Linked DNA regions of Homo sapiens: regions 1 and 3 are each linked to region 2. Evidence: fine-mapped expression QTL. A gene starts in region 2. Each other region holds a variant in brackets. All regions are shown on one strand. Distances are from middle to middle. Region 1 overlaps NBEAL2 (neurobeachin like 2). Region 2 holds the start of NBEAL2 (neurobeachin like 2). Region 3 overlaps CCDC12 (coiled-coil domain containing 12).

Region 1 (6,065 bases), 25 kb before region 2:
GTACTATCAGATTACACTATCTGCTCCCTGAAGCATCATCCCTTCCTTTACTGTCAGTCCCCAGGGGTCATAGAGTAGGTGTCACAGATGCAGAGGTTCCCTCCAAGAAACAGGCAGAGACTTTAGGAGGGCATCTCAGAAAGTGGGTGAGAAGCTGGGACAGACATGGAAGATGCTTCCAGAGTATCACACTTAGTTTCAACTTGGTCCTCTCACCCTGTTATTCCTTGTCCCCCTAGCCCAAAGGCAGGAAGAGAGGGAAACCTAAAAAAAAAGTCAGGCCTGGGGGCAACATTCAGGAATGTTCCTGTCTAGGAAGGCGATGGAAGGGGTCCAAGGACAGATCTCCCTCCTGATCTCCCTAAGGCTTTCAGAGCTTGTTGAGTCGACACTTTATCCTGGCCCTGATGAAGAAGGCACCCCTCCTGCCCCCATACTCTTCCCATGTTTAGCTCATTTTCTAAGGTGCCTTGAAATCAGTGACCTTGATTAGGATTCCCATCTGCCCCACGTGGTTGGTAAGGACAGTGGGGTTAAACCCATTTCACAGAATATAAAGTTGAGGTCTTGTCTTCCTTTCACCTCTGCGAAGAATGCCTTGAGTTCGTCCAGGTGCTGGAAGATGCTAGGTGAGTTAGTGTCCAGGCGTGCAAGGCGATGGGCTGCTTCCTCAGCTGAGAGCCGAGTTGGATGTGGCTCCTGTGGGTAAGTGGCTGGTCAGCACCATGGCATGGGCATCCCTGGCCACTATCCTCTAAGCTGGCCTTACCTTCAGCAGCTGACAGGGAGTCTGCCCAAAGTTGCTGATAATGCCCTCCAGAGCCTTCCGTTCCCGCTCATCTGTCACATGGTCCAGGTCTACAGCCCCTGGGAAGGCAGGCAGAGCAGTCAGGGCTCCCTGCGTGCCCTCTGCATCCACCCGACCTGATCTTGTCCTGGCCCTGACTGGAGTCCAGCGCACTGCCCACCCTCATAGGTGCAGTAATAGAAGACATTGAGGGCCTCCTCGGCGGCTGGCCCCCGCTGCTTGTAGCCAAAGATGAGGTCGATCCACTCGTGTAGGTGTGCAGACACATACTCCGACTCCTGAGAGTAGGGAGGCAGCAATCAGTGCAGGGACAGCTGACCCCCCATGATCTTCAGAACCCCGGCTGCCTGCCGTTTGCCTGTGGTTCCTTCCTCACCAGAGCCTGGCGGTGCTGCTGGATGAAGTCCTCAGGAGAGCTGGCCCACGGGGGTAGCACCACATCGCCTACCTTCTCGTTGGTCAGCTGGAGACAGCCCAGGTCAAAACCTGGCACAGAGGACTGGGTCAGCTGTCTCCCTGTCCATCCCGACTGCCCCCTGGCCACTCCACCATCTGCTCTCCATCCCTACACCTGCCCGCTCCAGTGTGAGCACCTCACACCTACCGTTCTGGTTCTCCAGGAAGTCAGGAAAGTAGAAGAATTCCGGGATGAGCTCCTTCACATCGGCAGGGCTCTCCAGGCGTGCCTGCCAGGCTGCCGCCACCGAGTGGAACTGCCGGTCGGAGCAGTCAAAGCTGGGGGAGGGGCACGGGGCCAAGGTGAGGTGGGGAGAATGGAGACAGGGAGGGAGATGCTGTGGCTGGAGGGAAGAAGGGAGCCAGGGGTGGGCCCAGGATGTGGGGAGGACCAGCCTCCTCCCCTTATCTGCCCCCTAGTCTGCCCACCAGCCCCTGGGCCGCACCGGCCACTTTGCAGCTGGACGTGCAGGGAGGTGAAGGGCTCCACGCGGATGAGGTAGTGCATCACGCCTGCTGCATTGGAGTAGTGGGTGCCATAGTGGAACTTGTCAATGGTCCCTGCTGGGTCCTCAAAGCTTTCATACCTGGGGCCACAGTTGGACGTGTCAGCAGAAGCCCTCCCCTCGCCTTTCCCTACCCGCTGAGCCCAGCCCTGCCCACATGCTCACTTCTCCCTCACGAGCTGGGCATGCTTGGGGTTCACCACACCGATGGGCTTAGACAGGTCCCGGAAGACGGCTGGGTTGCTGAGGTCCAGGGTTGGGGACACGTAGTCCTGCAGGACCCAGGGGAACTGGCCACCCACCCGAGCAGGGGCTGCATGAGGGCCCTGATGGCCTACCAGCCCACCCTGCCCTGCCCACACCCTCAAGAAGGCGGGCACAGAGCCTGCCCACAGGTTGGGGGAGCACCACTTAGAGGGGTCACAGGGGAGAAGGACAGAGTGTCCTGGAACAGGATTCCTTTTGAGGAATAGAGGCTAGGCAGGGAGGGGAAGGGAGTGAGGCTGGGGACCTCTGGGGGTTGGCAGGGAACAGAGGCCAGGTCTTCATTGGCACATCTACCCTTGACCAAGCTCAGAGCTTGGCCCACTGGCAGGTACCTACACTTGGGGGAACCAAGGGCTGACAGGTCAGAGGGGCAGGGGTGGAGGGGTGCAGAGTGGGACCCTCACCACAGGGTACTGAGACAGGTCATTGTAGGTCCGCCCCGCAATGGTGTTGAGTTGCATCAAGTACTCGAAGTTGGATATCTCACGCTGTACCCATTTCTGGGGACAGGGGCAGACAAGATGTGAGCCAGGTGGGCTGTCCAGCACTGCCCCGTGATTCAGGGTCCCGACTTCACATCCCTCACACCCAGGGCTCTCACCTGGGTAAGGCCTGAGGCACGCAGCATCTCCTGGGGG[G/A]AGCGGCTGCTTAGGTAGCCTTGAGAGGGGGGCCGTAGGCGCAGGAGCCACGAGTACACCTGGTTCCGTACCTGGGTATGGGGTGGGATGGGGCCAGGCTGGGGTCTGGGAGTCTGGCTAGGAGATGAGACTGGGGTCGTGCCCACCTTGCATGGGAAGTTGAGGAAGTAGTTGGCCTGATCGATAAAGAAGAGCTCAAGTGCTGAACGGCGCAGGTTGAAACGCCGCAGGTGGACCTCACGCAGCTGGGCCAGTGGGCGCCGGAAATCATAGCCGATGCCTATGGGGAGGAACAGCAGGTACGGGAGTCACTCACCCCAGCCCCACCCAGAGCTCAGCCATTCCCTGCCATCCTCCTAAACCACACCACCAGGACGCACCCTCCTCGGTTTCCACGCGCTCAGTGCTGCCATCGTAGAAGTATACATTCTGTGTGGTGACCTCCAGCAGCCCTGGGACCACGGCCACTACCGTCACCAGCTGGCACTCGGCCGACAGCACCAGCTTCTCACGCTGCTCATCCAGTTCTGCTGCCTCCATCCTAAAGACCAGCAACCCACCTCACGCTGTAGGCTCTGGGACCCCCTTCTTCACAAGCCCAAAGGGCATCCAAGTGCCATTGAGTCATGGGGTATATACTCTCATGACTCCCAGAGATGGGGAGGGGCTGCCTAGGGTCCAGAACCTACTGGTCCCAGCCCCTGTCCCCCACCTGCCACCCACTGGGCTTCTGAATATTTTGCCAGGATGCCAACCCTTGTCCCCTGCTCCCCTCACCCAGCCCCTGCCCACTCCCTGGGCCCCCTTCCTGCTCTGGTTTGTGTTTCTCAGTGCTGTCCTCAGGTGCCTGGCTGTTAAAAGAGCAACTCTCAGCCCTGTTAGGAGACTCTCCCACTCACCATCTGGCTTTGGACAGTCCCTTCAGGGGGACGTAGTCGGGCAGCAGAAGAGGACACACTCAGGGAGTTGATCCCACAGAGGCATGCACACACTGGAGCAGACCCCTTGCCCACCACACCAGTCCAATCTCTCCAGGGCCCCACTCACGGGGTCTCCAGCTCAGCCAGCTCGTCCTCGCCGAGCTGGTCCTCCTGCAGCAACTCGGGTGGGGTGCTCACTTTGGCCTCTTTGGTCACTGCCAGAGGCAGTGAGGCCTCCTCGGTGGGTGTCAGGGGAACCTCACCTGCAAGGGGCCAAGGGTACTCAGCAGAAGCAAGGCAGGACAGGAGACGGGACAATCGAGTTGGGTGGACCCATCTCAGCACACTCCCTCACCCAGATTGTCTCGGAGAGCGCTGGCTTCCAGGTGAGGGTCGAAGTGATGGTTGGGCACCAGCTTCAGACGCATGCGTGAATATGTCTCGGCGCTGGACAGTTTCCAGCGGGGGATGGGAGTGTCCCTGCAGAATGTCCCCCAGGTCATGGGTCGGTAGAAGGCTGTAGACACCCCCATCCCTCCCTGGCCTCACCCCAAAGGCAGTCTGGGGCTCCAGGTGGCTCCCTCCCTCCCAAGCCCCACCCCTCCACAGCGACCCTGCCCCAAGCCCGGCCCACCTCAGCGCCCAGGCCCCACATGGGCTGGCGAGCTGGCGCCACAGCGCCCCCCAGTGCAGCAGGGCCATGGAGTGCTGCGTTGCCTGCTGCTTCAGCACTGCCGTGTAGCGTAGCCCCTCCAGGCGCGCCCGCCTCTGCGCAGGTTCCAGCACCAGCTCCTGGGGTGGGGGTAATAGGTCAGTCCCCTGGCTGCTGCCTGCCCTACCCGTTTCTCCACATTGTCAGTCATCTCCTGGGTGCATGTGTGGAGCAGTTTCCCATCCCTTACCCCGGGTGGCACACCTGGAAGGCCCGACGACTCTGGGCGCGCTCCCACTGGCGCCGCTGCCCACTGCTCATAAGCATGTCATAGCAGGCATTCCAGAAACCTGACATAAGGTCGTGGCTCTTAGCATACGTGTCCATTTCGAACTGGGACATGGTTGGCTGTACCTGGAGGATTGGGCAGAGGAGAACAGTGCTCGATGTGGGCCCCAGCCCCCACTCCTCTTCCTGGGCCCCAACCTCCAGGCACCTGTTTGTCGATGAAGTGGCGCCATTCGGGTGTGGCACAAAAAGCCTGGAAGTCTTCAAAGAAGGTGGGGCTGCCATTGGTGGGTGGCAGGGAGGGCAGTCCCCACTGCAGCCCCAGCGGCTCATAGGCACGGTCTAGCAGCGTGCGCACCAGTGGCACCAGCCAGGAGCAGCGCTCTGCAGCTGCTGCAGCTGCTGCAGCTGCAAGTGGGGACCCTGCCTCATCAGTGGCTGACTCCAAGGAAGAGGTGTTCAGCACCCGCCCCAGTGCAGCCTCCAGCTTGGAGAGCACATAGCAGGCCTCCTCGCGGCGGGCTGGCACTGCAGTCTGTAGCAGCATGTGCAATCTCACGTAGGCCTGGGCATGCAGCTGTGGGCGCAAGAGAGATGAGTGGCACCCAGCCACTCTTGGAGCTCCCGACATCTCACACGCCCCCTGCCCCCATGCTCACCCTGTGCTCACCTGTGGGTCTTCCAGCAGGATGTAGCCAAGTACAAGCCGTAGGCCAATCTGCGCCATCTCACGGAGATCAGCTGTGCCGTTGGCCAGGTGGGGCCAGGCTCCCAGGCGATCAAGTAGGCTGCATACACCTTCAAAGAGCTGCCACAGAAAACAGGTTCCCAACAGACATCACCAGGGGAGGCCAGGAGTCCATGGAAAGGGAGCAAAGTAAAGTTTGCGCTGGGGGCCAGGTAGGGTTTGTGCACACAGGCAAGTCCACACTCACAGGCATTCATGCTGATGCACCCACACCTGCGCACGTGTACCCATCCACCTCCCAGACCAGATCCCTGCAGGCTTGCATGAACATGAGTGTTCATGTGGCTCACGCCTCTCTGAGGGGTCGCACCTTCTCACTCCACAGTTCCTGGTTACCATGGCCTTCAGCACACAGGAAGTCCTGCAGCAGACGCAGCAGCCAAAGCGCTTGCTGGGTGAGGCTGGCCAGGACCCCCACGGGGGCCTCTTTGATGTCGGTCAGGGCTGACTCCAGCATCATCTCCAGGAGGCTGGCGGGTGAGTGGGGAACTCAAGGGTCTACCTGACTATCTTCTCTCCTTCCCCCGAGGCTTCCTGAAGCCCCTCCCCCTCCAGACTTTCCCTCTCACCTGCGCTTGATGCAGTCTGGTGGGCGCACAAGTGTGGCTGAGGCCCCCAGCTGGGTGAGCACTGAGAAAACCTGGCCACGCTCCCGCCAGGCAGCCTCATCGCTGCCTTCCACGCCACGCCACGTCACCGAGAACAGCACGTTGGTGAGCAGATTGCACAACTCTTCCTCAGAGGTTTGCTGTGGGCACAGGTGGGTGGTGTGGGCGTGGGTT
Region 2 (6,002 bases):
GGGCATCAGGAGGCAACCATGCTGGAGTTACTGTCCTGGGAGATACCAAGACACTCCCAGCAGCCTGCCACCCAGGCTGAAGACCTATCATTAACATCCCTCACACTCACCAGCTGGTTTAAGCCCCCTTTACCTGCCCATGCACCTAGAGCCTGCCCATAGCTATGGGGCAGTCCGAGGAAGGAGGACTAGGGTAGGCTTCTCTTCAAACCCTCTGCTCCTTCACAACCACTGGGGATGCAGGCAGAGAAGCTGGGGCGAGGGGACCCAATGGGGCCAGGAAAACAGGAGCCTTCTCTGGTCTGGACCAGCTATAATGGCTACCTCTCCACAGAGTCCAGGAAGCCCCTGAGGTCAGGGCTGTGTCAGTTTTTTATTTTTATTTTATTTTTTTGAGACGGAGTCTCACTCTGTCACCAGGCTGGAGTGCAGTGGCGCGATCTCGGCTCACTGCAACCTCTGCCTCCCTGGTTCAAGCGATTCTCCTGCCTCAGCCTCCCGAGTAGCTGGGATTACAGGCACACCCCACCACGCCCGGCTAATTTTTGTATTTTAGTAGAGATGGGGTTTCACCATGTTGGCCAGGATGGTCTCGATCTCCTGACCTTGTGATCTGCCCGCCTCGGCCTCCCAAAGTGCTGGGATTACAGGTGTGAGCCACCGTGCCCGGCCAGGGCTGTGTCAGTTTTACAGGCAGGAAGCAGAGGCTCAGAAGTCGAGTTCGATCTGAGTTATACCAAAGAGGGACTCTACTCCATGCCTGGCCTCCTGCTGGGGCCTGGACCTCTCACAACCTGAGCGGACTGAAGAGGCTGTGGTCCTTCTGGCCTGGACTCCAGGTCCGTGGAAGACAGTGGGCCAGCCTCCTTATGGAGGGCCAGCGTGTCTGAGCATGAATTCCCCCCACTGACAAACTGTTCAGGGCACACAATGGTCCATTGTGCCCAGGGCACACCTGAGCCAGGAGCATGATGCCAGGCAGGTGCAGGGAGGGAGGTGCTGGGTGAAGGGGAGGGGAGTGTTACCCTGGGATCCCTCCCTGCTGTGGGTACAGAAGGAAAATGGGGGACTATGTGTGTGAGACGGTGTGAGTGATACCAGGTTCTCAGCTGATGGGACACCCACGTCTGAGTCACTCCCCTCACCTTCTGACTCCACCTGAAGTATTTTCTGAGATGGGTGGGGAGCTCAGGAGGAACGGGCCTCCCTCCAACCTTTTCAGACATCCCTCAGGGCCTCAAGGACCCACCCTCACCCTGGGCATCCAGAGGAAAACCTTTTCTTCTGCTCCTAGAGAGGTCCTGGGTCTACCCCTCAGAATGGGGGTGGGGTGGGGTGGGTCATTTCAAGTCAGGGAAGAGCTTATCACAGCCTGTTCGCTGGGGTGTGGGGGGATGCAACTCAAGAAGGACCTGAAGTGGGAGCATTCCCCTTCCACACACCTCCCTACCTTGGCCCACACCCCCAGACCCGTTGGCCACGACCACCCAATCAGGCCGCGCCCAAGGGAGAGGCAGCTCATAGACAAATTGAGTCCCCCTCCCCCTAGCCTCCTGGCCAGTCTCCAGGTCTCTCCAGGTCTCAGTTTCCCCATTTGTAAAAAGGCCAAGTGTCCGGCCGCCTCGGCCCAGGCCACTCTCCTCTAGCAAGAAAGACTCAGGCTGCACGGTCCTGCTCGCGGGGGTGGGTTGCTATGAAGTGCACGACCGCGAGCTCTGTCCCCAAGGCATAAGTGCCAGAGGCACCCGGCGGGCTGGGGGCACACACGTGTGTGCGGAGCCGGAGCATGCCCTGCGCGCGCGCGCCCGCGCGCGCGGCTACGCGGCCCCAGCGGCGCGGGGCGCCAGGTGCAGCAGGCGCGGGGCGCGCGAAGCTGGGGGCACCGCGGGTGCGGGTGCGGGCGCGGGGCGGGGCGGGCTCACCTGCGCGTAGTAGAGCAGCCACAACTCGTACAGCCGCTCCGAGGCGGCCATGGCCCGGCCCGGCTCCGGCCCTGCTGCGCGCCACCTGTCGCCGCCTCCTCCGCGCCGCCCGCCGGTTGCCCTCGGCCAGGCCCATGGGCGGAGGGCGTCACTCCGGGGCGGAGCGGCGCGGTACTACTGGGGAAGTCTGCGGCTGTGGCCTCCGCGGCGCAGAGCCACCCAAGTCTGCTCGCTCCTCCTCCTCACTGCCGGCCGCCGCCCAGCTTCCTGCACTTCGCTGCAGTCACCGCCGCCCCGCCTCTCCTGGGACCATGTAAAGGGCGGAGAGCCTGGCAGGAGGAGGGGCCTATGGGCCGGGCGGCCCGGGAGGGTGCCCCGCTGCCCTGCCCCACCAGTGCCATTGGAAGGGCCAGCCTGAGCCTCCGGGACGAGGGTCGGGGTGAGGAATTCCAGACTTCCCCAGGGTCTGAATCCGCCCAGGACGCTGCTCGCCTGACTGCATTTGCCGCCATTCAGGGAAGGGGCGGCGGGCCGCGTGGAGGTGGCGAGGGTCCTTCAACAATAATCTCCACCACCACCATGACGACCCCTTGTAGCGCTTATCAAATGCCAGGTGCTACTCTGTCGCTTTATGGGAAGACCGAAACGCAACTTTTGAGCTCTAGCTGTTTGTGGAGTGTGATGGCGGGAAGTTAGAGAGTAGCAGGACTAGCCTGAAATACCTTCGGGGCCGCGGTGCCCTCCCAGATCCCAGAGAGGCTTAGACCGTTGCCACGGGTCCCCCTCCCTCCTCCAGGAAGCCTTCCCAAACGCTCCAGTGGAGGGGCTCCCCCCATTCCCCAACTCCAGGGCCCAGAACTTGCTTCACATATGTTGTTTCTTTAACCTCAACAGGTGGGTGCCTCATGGCTCTGTTTTTTGTTTGTTTTTGAGACAGAGTCTCACTCTGTCGCCCAGGCTGGAGTGCAGTGACTCGATCTCGGCTCACTGCAATCTCCGCCTCCTGGGTTCAAGTGATTCTCCTGCCTCAGCCTCCTGAGTAGCTGGGACTACAGGCGCGTGTCACCAGGCCCAGCTAATTTTTTGTATTTTTAGTAGAGACGGGGTTCCACCGTGTTAGCCAGGATGGTCTGGATTTCCTGACTTCATGATCCACCCGCCTCGACCTCCCAAAGTGCTGGGATTATAGGCATGAGCCACCGCACCCGGCCGGCTCTGTTTTACAGATGGAGAAACTGAGGCCCAAGTTGACCAAATGAGGACCACTTGGGCAGCAGGGGCAGGGACCCAGGCTTGACTGACTCTTTTTTGGGTCCCTGCCACCATCACCCCGTGCCCCCTTCCCCATCCCCTTACCTCACAGTCTGGACACGGGGAAAGGGGCACGGGGTGATGGTGGCAGGGACCCAACCCCTGGTGTTGGGCAGGGATCAGGCTCTTTGTTGGGGCTGGGGAGAAGTTTTCTGGGCCCAGAGGGGTGCTACTCGTTCCAGGAGTTGACCAGTCTGGAGACTCCTAGACCTTGGTTGGCCAAGACAACAGAGACCCTGTCCTGTTTTGTTCTCCCAGCTTCTTGGTTCACCTCTGGCCTTTTGTCCTGCTTCATCCATCATAGCTCTGAGCTGAGGTTTCCTGAGCACCTCCAAACTGCATGCCAGGCCTTGGCAGAGCAACCCATCCACTACAGGGAAGAAGGCTTAGACAGACCCAGGTTAGTGAGGACAAGAGGGTTAGTGAAGGGAGGGCTAGATCTGCAGTCTGTGGCCCATGGGCCTCTGAAGGGAGTTGGAAGGGGAAGAGTGGATGTCCACCTGTAGCCAGCTTGGGAAGGGAAGACTCAGGGAGGGAACAGCCTAAGAGGCTAGTTGTCCCCTGGCAGTGGAGGTGGAGAGGGGGCGGCATGGTCTCCTATTCCCAAGTGAGAGGGGGTGTGGCTTTGGGGACCCCCACATACTGAAAGAATATCTTGACTTCAGCCTAAGTGGTCTCGCGGTTATCAGGACACTCTAGTTCATGCAGGAAAGAAGACTCTGGCAGCTTCTGCTGGGTAGCCATGAATCTTGTGGCGACTTGCAGTCGAGGCCACCCCAAGTCTTTCTAAGCTGGGGATTGGGGGCAGTACTTGAGGCCCACTGGACCCAGGTTGGGGTTTGCTCTTCCCCGGGAAAGGTAACTTGACCCTGAGGACTTTGCTGCTCCAGGAGGGGATGGGAATGAGAGGGGATCATCTTTGAGTCCAGAGGGAAACAGCCATACAGTCAGGTCCCCCTCACTGTGCAGGCTTTGTCTGAGCTGAGAGTGGTCACAGAGGGGCTTAGGGGCGCTTGTCAGGTGAGTCCGGGGAGCCACTGACAGCTGCAGAGGTGTAAGTCATACCTTGTATTAGGGTGGGATCGAAGTGGAGGATCAGGGAAGGCTTTTTTTTTTTTTTTTTTTTTTTTGAGACGGAGTCTTGCTCTGCTGCCAGGCTGGAGTGCAGTGGCACGATCTCGGCTCACTGCAACCTCCGCCTCTCTGGTTCAAGCGATTCTCCTGCCTCAGCCTCCCGAGTAGCTGGGATTACAGGCACGCGCCACCACGCCCAGTTAATTTTTGTATTTTTAGTAGAGATGGAGTTTCACCATGTTGGCCAGGATGGTCTCCATCTCCTGACCTCGTGGTCCGCCCTCCTCGGCCTCCCAAAGTGCTGGGATTACAGGCGTGAGCCACCGCGCCCGGCCCAGGGAAGGTTTCTTGAAGGCATTCGAGCCTTGTCAGGTCAAGTGGACAAGGATGAGTCAGGGCATTCCAAGAGGCCAGCATGGAGTGATTAGTGTGGTTAGTACTTGGGCAAAACCGGAGCGATCGACGCACTCTTTTCTCCTTCTCTCAGGTCTGAATTCCACTTGCTGCTCTTTCACTGATCAGCGTTGGATAAATCGAGCCTTAGCTTTTTTTTTTTTCTTTTTTTTTTTTGCTGGCTCCCCACCCACTAGGCAAGTTGTCCGGAAGAATAAGGGCGGGGCGGGGCGGGGCGGGGCAAGGCGGGGAGGGCTCGCCCATAATAACCCCGCATTGATTGGCTTTCAGGACCTCCCAGTCTCTCATTCTCGTCCTTGGATTGGCCGCGAGACATTTATCCACTCTCCTTAGGCCTGCGCGATGCAAGACGGGAGAAAAGGAGGGGCGTACGCGGGCAAGATGGAGGCAACTACGGCTGGTGTGGGCCGGCTAGAGGAAGAGGCGTTGCGGCGAAAGGAACGGCTGAAGGCCCTACGGGAGAAAACCGGGCGCAAGGTGAGAAGTGTGGAGTGAGGGTCGCAGTTGAGGCGTCCAGCGTTCGGGGTCCGGGTCGCGCTTGAGGAGAGCAAAGGGCTAATAAGGAAAGACAGCTGCCGAGGGCGCGCATGCGCGGGCGCTAACGCATGCGCGAGAAGACGGCGCCCTCCCACGATGTCTGGGGCTGCTTGGCGTGGGACTCCTCTGGCGCTGGTGCGGTCGTCGCGCATGCGCGGGGGTGGGCAAGGCAGTGGTCAGCGACCCGCAGTCCATCTGACTCCTGCTTCCCGGGTGTTGCTCGTGTAGGTATCTAGGGCTGCCTGTAGGTTCAGATGCTTGTTGGGTTAGGCGTGATTTGTTCCGTTCCTCTATGGCCTAGCTGGTCTTTAACCCCCGCCTTCGATTCTGAGTCAGACAGACTCCCCAGTCCGGCAGCACTCCTTGGACAGGGCAGCAAGTGACAGCAGTGGGTATACAGCCGGAGTCGTTTCGTGCAAAAATCAAAAAGAGGCCGGGCACGGTGGCTCACGCCTGTAATCCCAGTGCTTTGGGAGGCCGAGGCAGGCGGATCACTTGAGGTTAGTAGTTCGAGACCAGGCTGGGTAACATGGTGAAACCCCGCCTCTACTAAAAATACAAAAATTAGCCGGGCGTGGTGGTGCGCGCCTGTAATCCCAGCTTCTCGGGAGGCTATGGCAGGAGAACCGCTTGAGCCTGGGAGGCAGAGGTTGTAGTGAGCCGAGATCTCGCCACTGTACTCCAGCCTGGGCAACAGAGCGAGACTCCGTCTCAAAAAAAAAAAAAAAAAAAAAATCGAAAATA
Region 3 (6,311 bases), 27 kb after region 2:
TCACATAGATGCTATAGAGGTTGATGCATCTGGTGCCAGGTTTGAGTGAGGGCCGTTGGCAGCTATCAAGGAAACTGTTTTAGGGGATCCAGAATTGATGTAAACAGGGCCATGGGACTAGGGTGTGTGTGGGAGGCGAAAGGGTATCATTTACAGGGGCCACCCACTGAGGTTTTCAGGTCCTTGCTTGCTGTCTCTGTTGGATCCAGCGAAAGTGAACACATAGTGGTTGGGCTTTCTCCTCCTCTTCCCTCCTGGGCTCAGCCTAAGGATCCTATCTACCAGCCAGAGTTTGTGGAGAAAGGTCACCTTCTTTTGTTCTACAGGCCTTACAGATCTGGGGATGGTCAGGTAGCAGCCACATGTCCTCAGGACCAGAGAGTCTGGGTGGTTGTTCCAGTCCCTGGAACTGACCAGGTGGGCCCCCTGTGCCTGATTCCTCTGACTGTCCACTGTGAGGCAATGGGGAAGGGGTTTCTGGGTGCCACACGAAGCTGTCTCCCACCAGGGGAGGGGTCTTCCAATCTGCATGGACCTTATCATTTGCTTTTGTGATTTGCTCACTGCTGCTCCCCTCGTGAGCTTAGAATGGTGAGGAAGTCCTAGTGGTTGTGAATTCTGCTTTGTGGTGAAGGAGGCTTTTTTCCCCTCCAAGAAAAGGGAAATGGTGGGGTAGGGTGAGAGGGTGGGGAGGTGACTTCATTGCTCATCACCAGTTAGTTTCTTAACCGACATTTTTAGCCCCCCAGTAATGGAGATGTCTATCCTGATTTAAGAGGGCTTAGTCTACAATTGGCTGCTGCATTTGCTACTGTGGTTAGAGTCCCAGGCTGCAGAGGGACGCTGGTGTGTGCAGGCTCAACCTGTCCTCTTCTGCACCAGCAAAGCTGGACTTTTTTTTTTTTTTTTTTCCAAGCTTGAGAAAAGTCATTAGGCATTGACAAGGCTGTGTCAGGCCTGAGTGCCAGCCATGGTTTCCTGCTTCCCCATTTAGCCAGGTGAGGGTCAAGAGAATCTGTTTAGGGTATGAGTCAAGATAGTGAGCCATAGTCAGCTAGGTTCCTCTGGTTACTTTTATTATTAAGTCATTTTGACAGCAGAATTAAGGAAGATGGAAAAAATACTACCCACGGTTGAGTGCGAGTCTGTGAAGTCTTTGGCCATTTGTATGTATGGTATTGCCATGGTTGCAATCATGAGTATGTAATATAGGACTCTTACCCCTGGCGTTTGTGTGTTTGTCTGTTGCATAGTGCTGCCTCGCTATTTTAATGCCTCCCCTGGCCCATCATGTGAATGCTGGCCTGCATAACTGTGCCCTACGGTGTTGGGCTCACTGCATAGTTCCACTTCTCCCTACTGTGAGAAACACAGCTCTAAACACCTCTGCATGCATTGCTCTTTTATTTCCTTGTGATGTCTTTTGGGACTGGAGTTCTTGGCCAAGAAATGACAATATTTGGGGCTCTCGATGGGTTTGATTGTATCTCTCTGAAATGACACCAGAAAGAGCTGTCAACTCTCATGTGATGACAGATGGAGGCACCCTAGACACACTTGAAACCATTTGCATGTGAAAGGTAGGGACAGGAGTGGGACAAGAGCAAAGGGCAGGGGTTCTAGAGGGAATCAGCCTATGCTTGAAGCCTGCCCTGCCATTTGCGTCCTGGCAACCTCTAGCTGTGTGACTCTGGATGGGTTACTTAATTGTCCTGGGCTTCCATTTTTCTCATCTGTGGTAGGAGAAAGGAGTGCTGACCTTATTAGATTTTCATAGTGATTAATTATTGATTATTTTTGATAATATCAGTACTACTGTTTAATTAATGGAATAATCAGTTGCCTGGCATACTGTTATTACCAAAGAATTGACAGTGTTGTAAGACATGCAGAACAGAGAAGAGTGACATTTGGGTTCGGCACTGCCCAGGGCTCACCTTCTAATGGAAAATCTTCCAATTTTATGGAACCTAGTTAAAACCACACTCCCAAGAAGTGGGCAGGGTTGGGATTTTTGTCTTCATTTTGCAGGAGAGAAGCAGAGGTGCAGATAGTTGTTGGAAAAGAGGATAGAACAGACAACTAAAGGATAAACAAGCAGCATGTGTGGTAGAAAGAACTGAGGATGTGGCAGCGGGGAGCTGGGCTTCTGTTTATTTCCCAAAACTTGTGCTCTACCCAATGGAAAGAGTATTAGGTATGACATGCACAGACCTGGTCCAGCCTCAGTTCTTGCATCTGTGCAACAAGGCTAGTGATAACCGAATACGTGGGTGCTGTTGGAAGGCTCACACAACAGAAGTTCCTGTAACATGGGAAGTTAGCATGTGCCTTCTGCCTCCCCAGGTGGTTCCTTTACTATTGGTCCAGCTGCTCTTAGTGCCAGGTGCTGTGAGCAGTGATGGAGAGGCCTCTGAGAGCTTCCAGTCTAGGAAGGAAGACAGATGTCAAACAAAATCTCATGTGGGGAAATAAAGGTAGAATCATATGTCTGGGATGGTTATCATTAGAAGGCATGGGAAGAACACCTTTGTGCTAAAAGTGGTCATGACCTTTGGCCCACACAGGAGAATGTGCTGAAACCCACCCACCGAGTTTTGTGGTGGGGTCAGAATTAAGGATTCTGTGGGGAAACTTCACAGATGGGTGGTGCCTGTTCTTGTAGCCTGGGGCCTCTTGACAATCCTAAAGGAATCAGATAGCAGATAGATCATTGTTAATTTGATCCTCATTAAGTATATATATATATATATATATATATTTTTTTTTTTTTTTTTTTTGAGACGGAGTCTCGTTCTGTCGCCCAGGCTGGAGTGCAGTGGCACAATCTTGGCTCACTGCAAGCTCCGCCTCCCTAGTTCACGCCATTCTCCTGCCTCAGCCTCCCGAGTAGCTGGGACTGCAGGTGCCCGCCACCACGCC[C/T]GGCTAATTTTCTGTATTTTTAGTAGGGACGGGGTTTCACTGTGTTAGCCAGGATGGTCTTGATCTCCTGACCTCGTGATCCACCCGCCTCGGCTTCCCAAAGTGCTGGGATTACAGGCCTGAGCCACCGTGCCCAGCCCTAAAATGATTTTTTAAAAATTGTTAATTGATAAATAATAGCTGTATATTTATGGTGTACAACGTGATGTTTCTACAATATACGTTGTAGAAAGATTAAATCAAGCTGATTTAACATTTTTTGTGGTGAGACTTTAAAATCTAGGCTCAGCAATTTTGAATATACATTATTATTAACCGATCACCATGCTGTGCAGTAGCTCCCTTAAACACACTCCTCCTGCCTAACTGGAACTTTGTGTCCTTTGCCCAACATCTTCACTTTCTCCACCTCTCCTGCAACTCCAGCCTCTGTAACCACCCATCTAGTCTCTGTTTCGGTGAGTTCTACTTTTTATTTTTTTATTTTAATTTTTAATTTTTTTGAGATACGAGTCTCACTCTGTTGCCAAGGCTGGAGTGCAGTAGTTCAGTTACAGCTCACTGCAGCCTTGACCTCGTGGCCTTGTTTGATCCTCCCACCTCAGCCTCCTGGGTAGTTGGGACCCGCCTCGGCCTCCCGAAATGCTGGGATTACAGGTGTGAGCCACTGTGGCTGGCCAGTTCTACTGTTTTAGATTCCACATATAAGTGAGATCATGCAGTATTTGTCTTTCTGAGCCTGGCTTATTTCGCTTAGCATAATGTTCCCCAGATTTGTCCATGTTGTTGCAAATGACAGGATTTCCTCTTTTTTTTTTGAAGCCTGAATAGTATTTCATTGTGTGTATATACTAAATTTTCTTACTCATTCATCCATTTATGGACACAGGTTATTTCCATTTGAGCCTCACTTTTAAAAATTAAGTTTAGCATATACAGAGACTTAGCCAAAAAAATGTAGCACTTTCAGAAAAGGATAATGTGCTCCATTCACATGAATGTTGTTACATTTTAAAAAATGGGCTGGGCATGTGGCTCATGCCTATAATCCAGCACTTTGGGAGGCCAAGGCAGGAGGATTACTTGAGCCCAGGAGCTCGAAACCAACCTTGGCAATATAGTTAGACCCTGTCTCTACCCCAAAAAAAAAAAAAAAGCTGTGCATGGTGGCATGCCCCTGTAGTCCTAGCTACTCCTATGCAGGAGGCTGAGGTGGGAGGTTTACTTGAGCCTAGGAATTTCAGGCTGTGGTAAGCTATGATTGCACCATGCATTCCAGCCTGGACAGCTGGACAACAGAGCGAGACCCTATCTCAAAAAAATGCAAATGTAGATCAATTTCTCTTCTGGTTGGTCTAATACTAATAGGCCTTCTGTTTCCCAGCATGGATCTGGGCCCTGGGTGCTGGGTCCTGGGTTCTTGTTAAGTGCTTTCTTGGTTTTTGTGTCAGGGCAAGGGGTGGGTGAGAACAGAAGGAGCATCAGGTTCCCTAAGAGGGATGCAGCAAGAACCAGGGTTCGAATTAGGCCCATCGCTGAGGGACAGCAGGACTTGGGACACTGCAAGATGTCAGCAGGCAGTTTTTTTTTCTTTTCTTTTTTTTTTTTTTTTGAGATGGAGTCTCACTCTGTCACCCAGGCTGGAGTGTGGTAGCGCAATCTTGGCTCACTGCAACCACTACCTCTGGGTTCGAGCAGTTCTCCTGCCTCAGCCTCCCGAGTAGCTGGGACTACAGGCGCCCGCCACCATGCCCGGCTAATTTTTGTAGTTTTAGTAAAGATAGGTTTTCACCATATTGGCCAGGCTGGTCTCGAACTCCTGACCTTATGATCCACCTGCCTTGGCCTCCCAAAGTGCTGGGATTACAGGCGTGAGCCACTGTGCCCGGCCAGCAGGCAGTTTTTCATGGTGCAGGGTCATGCGGGACCCTGTACCACATGGTGGACCCAAGTTGCCTTGTATAATCCTCACATGCCCCTGTTAAAGTAGTGCCAGCCCCACTTTGACAGGGGAGGAGACAGAGCCTCAGGGAGGTCCCACCACTGGTAAGCAGTGTGTCCTGATGTTCCCACCACCTGCCCAGTCCAGGGCTGCAGGCTGGGCTTCCTGCATACCACAGTGCCCCTACAGGGAGGACCCTGGAGGGAGTTTGGAGCCAGGCCAGACTTCCCAGAGGAACTCGTCCAGTCTGGCTGCATATGAAGGAAGGGGAAGAGACTGGTCTTTGCCCTGCCCTCTGTGTGACCTTTCAAGAGGTTATTTCCTGCTGGGGCCAGTGTGGGTGAAGTCTCAGGGCAGTGGGAGGGGCCTTTTGCATACTAATGGTTCTGGTTGTTCCCTCTGCTCTCTTCCCCCTCCGTCCCTCTGTCCCCACTGTCACTCATCCTTTAAGGTGACACTTCCTTTGGAAAGCCTCTGTAGACACCTCTTAATGCCACCCAAAAAAACACTGCCTTCCCTGGCTGTTGACACCTTCCCTTTTCCCCTGTGGGTCACCACCCCCTTGAGAATCTGAAGAGCTCCAGATTTCTCATCCACTAAGATTCACCTTCTCACACTCGCCTGTGTTTCTGTCTGGTCATTGACCTCTGGAATCTGTGCACCGAGGATAAGAACCCCTGCCCTGCTCTGTGGGCACTAGGTGCCTACTCGTTCCTCTTCCTCCTCAGTACCCAGCATGGAGTATCTGAGTACAGCATGGAGTACCACAGGGGAGCCAGTCAGTATTTGTCGACTGATAAAGTCTGCTGGAGGAGCTCTGTAGTGCCTCCCTTGAGCACTTGCAGCAAGAATAGGATCAGAGTTGACTTGGGCTGGCTCCCCACACTCCTGACAGACACATGGAGGATATCTGGGCAGGGCCGTGTGACGGGCCTGGCGAGGAGCTGCACTAGGCATGCCGTGGCCTGGCCCTTGAGGTGCCATATGGATGGTGGGGCCCAGCGTGCCTCTCTTCTGAGTGGAGCGGGCCCTCCTTTCCACCGCTGAGGGCACCTTGACAGGTGCTATCCCTTGGCACCAACCTTCGTCAGGCCTTGGGTGTCAAGCCTCACCGTTAGAATGCCTGAAGGCTGCCACACCCTTTCTCTTTGTCCCCTAAGTGCCACCACCTTTTTGTCAAAGGCGCCTTCCTTCCCCCAGTGAGTCACCAGCAGAACCTCAGTTGTTTCTGCTCCTCCCTGTCTCCCCACAGCGTTGAGGCACCTCCTTGTTCTAGTCCACCGCTGTTGACCTAGTTCCCGTCCTTATCTCCAGTCCTTATCTCTAGCCTCGCTGTTCTCCCAGCCTCCCGCTCAGCGCTTTGTTCTTGCTCTGCTCAGAAGCCTTTAGGGAACACATGAACCCACAGGAGAGCAGTGGCTCTTAGCTAATCCCAGCCTCTTGGATG

What was found. PIP is the estimated chance that this variant, and not a neighbour inherited with it, causes the effect. A credible set is the group of variants that fine-mapping cannot tell apart.
Region 1: its variant is the best candidate, but not a certain one, in a credible set for the expression of NBEAL2 in whole blood (TOPMed, PIP 0.76).
Region 3: its variant is the best candidate, but not a certain one, in a credible set for the expression of NBEAL2 in blood mononuclear cells (TOPMed, PIP 0.77).

The regions. Positions count from the first base shown.
Region 1 is chr3:47,000,967-47,007,031 of GRCh38, reverse strand. It overlaps NBEAL2 (neurobeachin like 2), which reads right to left. Exons shown (of 54, transcript NM_015175.3): 28 at 5,853-6,031; 29 at 5,594-5,753; 30 at 5,206-5,343; 31 at 4,744-5,112; 32 at 4,512-4,661; 33 at 4,230-4,387; 34 at 3,951-4,075; 35 at 3,723-3,858; 36 at 3,056-3,216; 37 at 2,639-2,955; 38 at 2,442-2,537; 39 at 1,936-2,060; 40 at 1,711-1,851; 41 at 1,413-1,543; 4 more. Among named protein-coding and RNA genes, the nearest start is that of NBEAL2, 24 kb to the right of the region's middle. The variant G/A (reference allele first, on the strand shown) is at 2,676.
Region 2 is chr3:46,975,833-46,981,834 of GRCh38, reverse strand. NBEAL2 (neurobeachin like 2) reads right to left here and starts at 2,169. Exons shown (of 54, transcript NM_015175.3): 1 at 1,923-2,169. The coding sequence starts at 1,973. It overlaps CCDC12 (coiled-coil domain containing 12), which reads left to right and starts at 5,090. Exons shown (of 7, transcript NM_001277074.2): 1 at 5,090-5,198. The coding sequence starts at 5,103. RefSeq lists enhancers at 334-1,114, 1,115-1,895, 3,798-4,498, 5,068-5,377, 5,202-5,903 and 1 more and silencers at 1,813-2,152, 2,253-2,442, 4,838-4,977.
Region 3 is chr3:46,948,249-46,954,559 of GRCh38, reverse strand. The region is part of intron 1 of CCDC12 (coiled-coil domain containing 12); the gene reads left to right. Among named protein-coding and RNA genes, the nearest start is that of CCDC12, 25 kb to the left of the region's middle. RefSeq lists a silencer at 6,027-6,311. The variant C/T (reference allele first, on the strand shown) is at 2,923.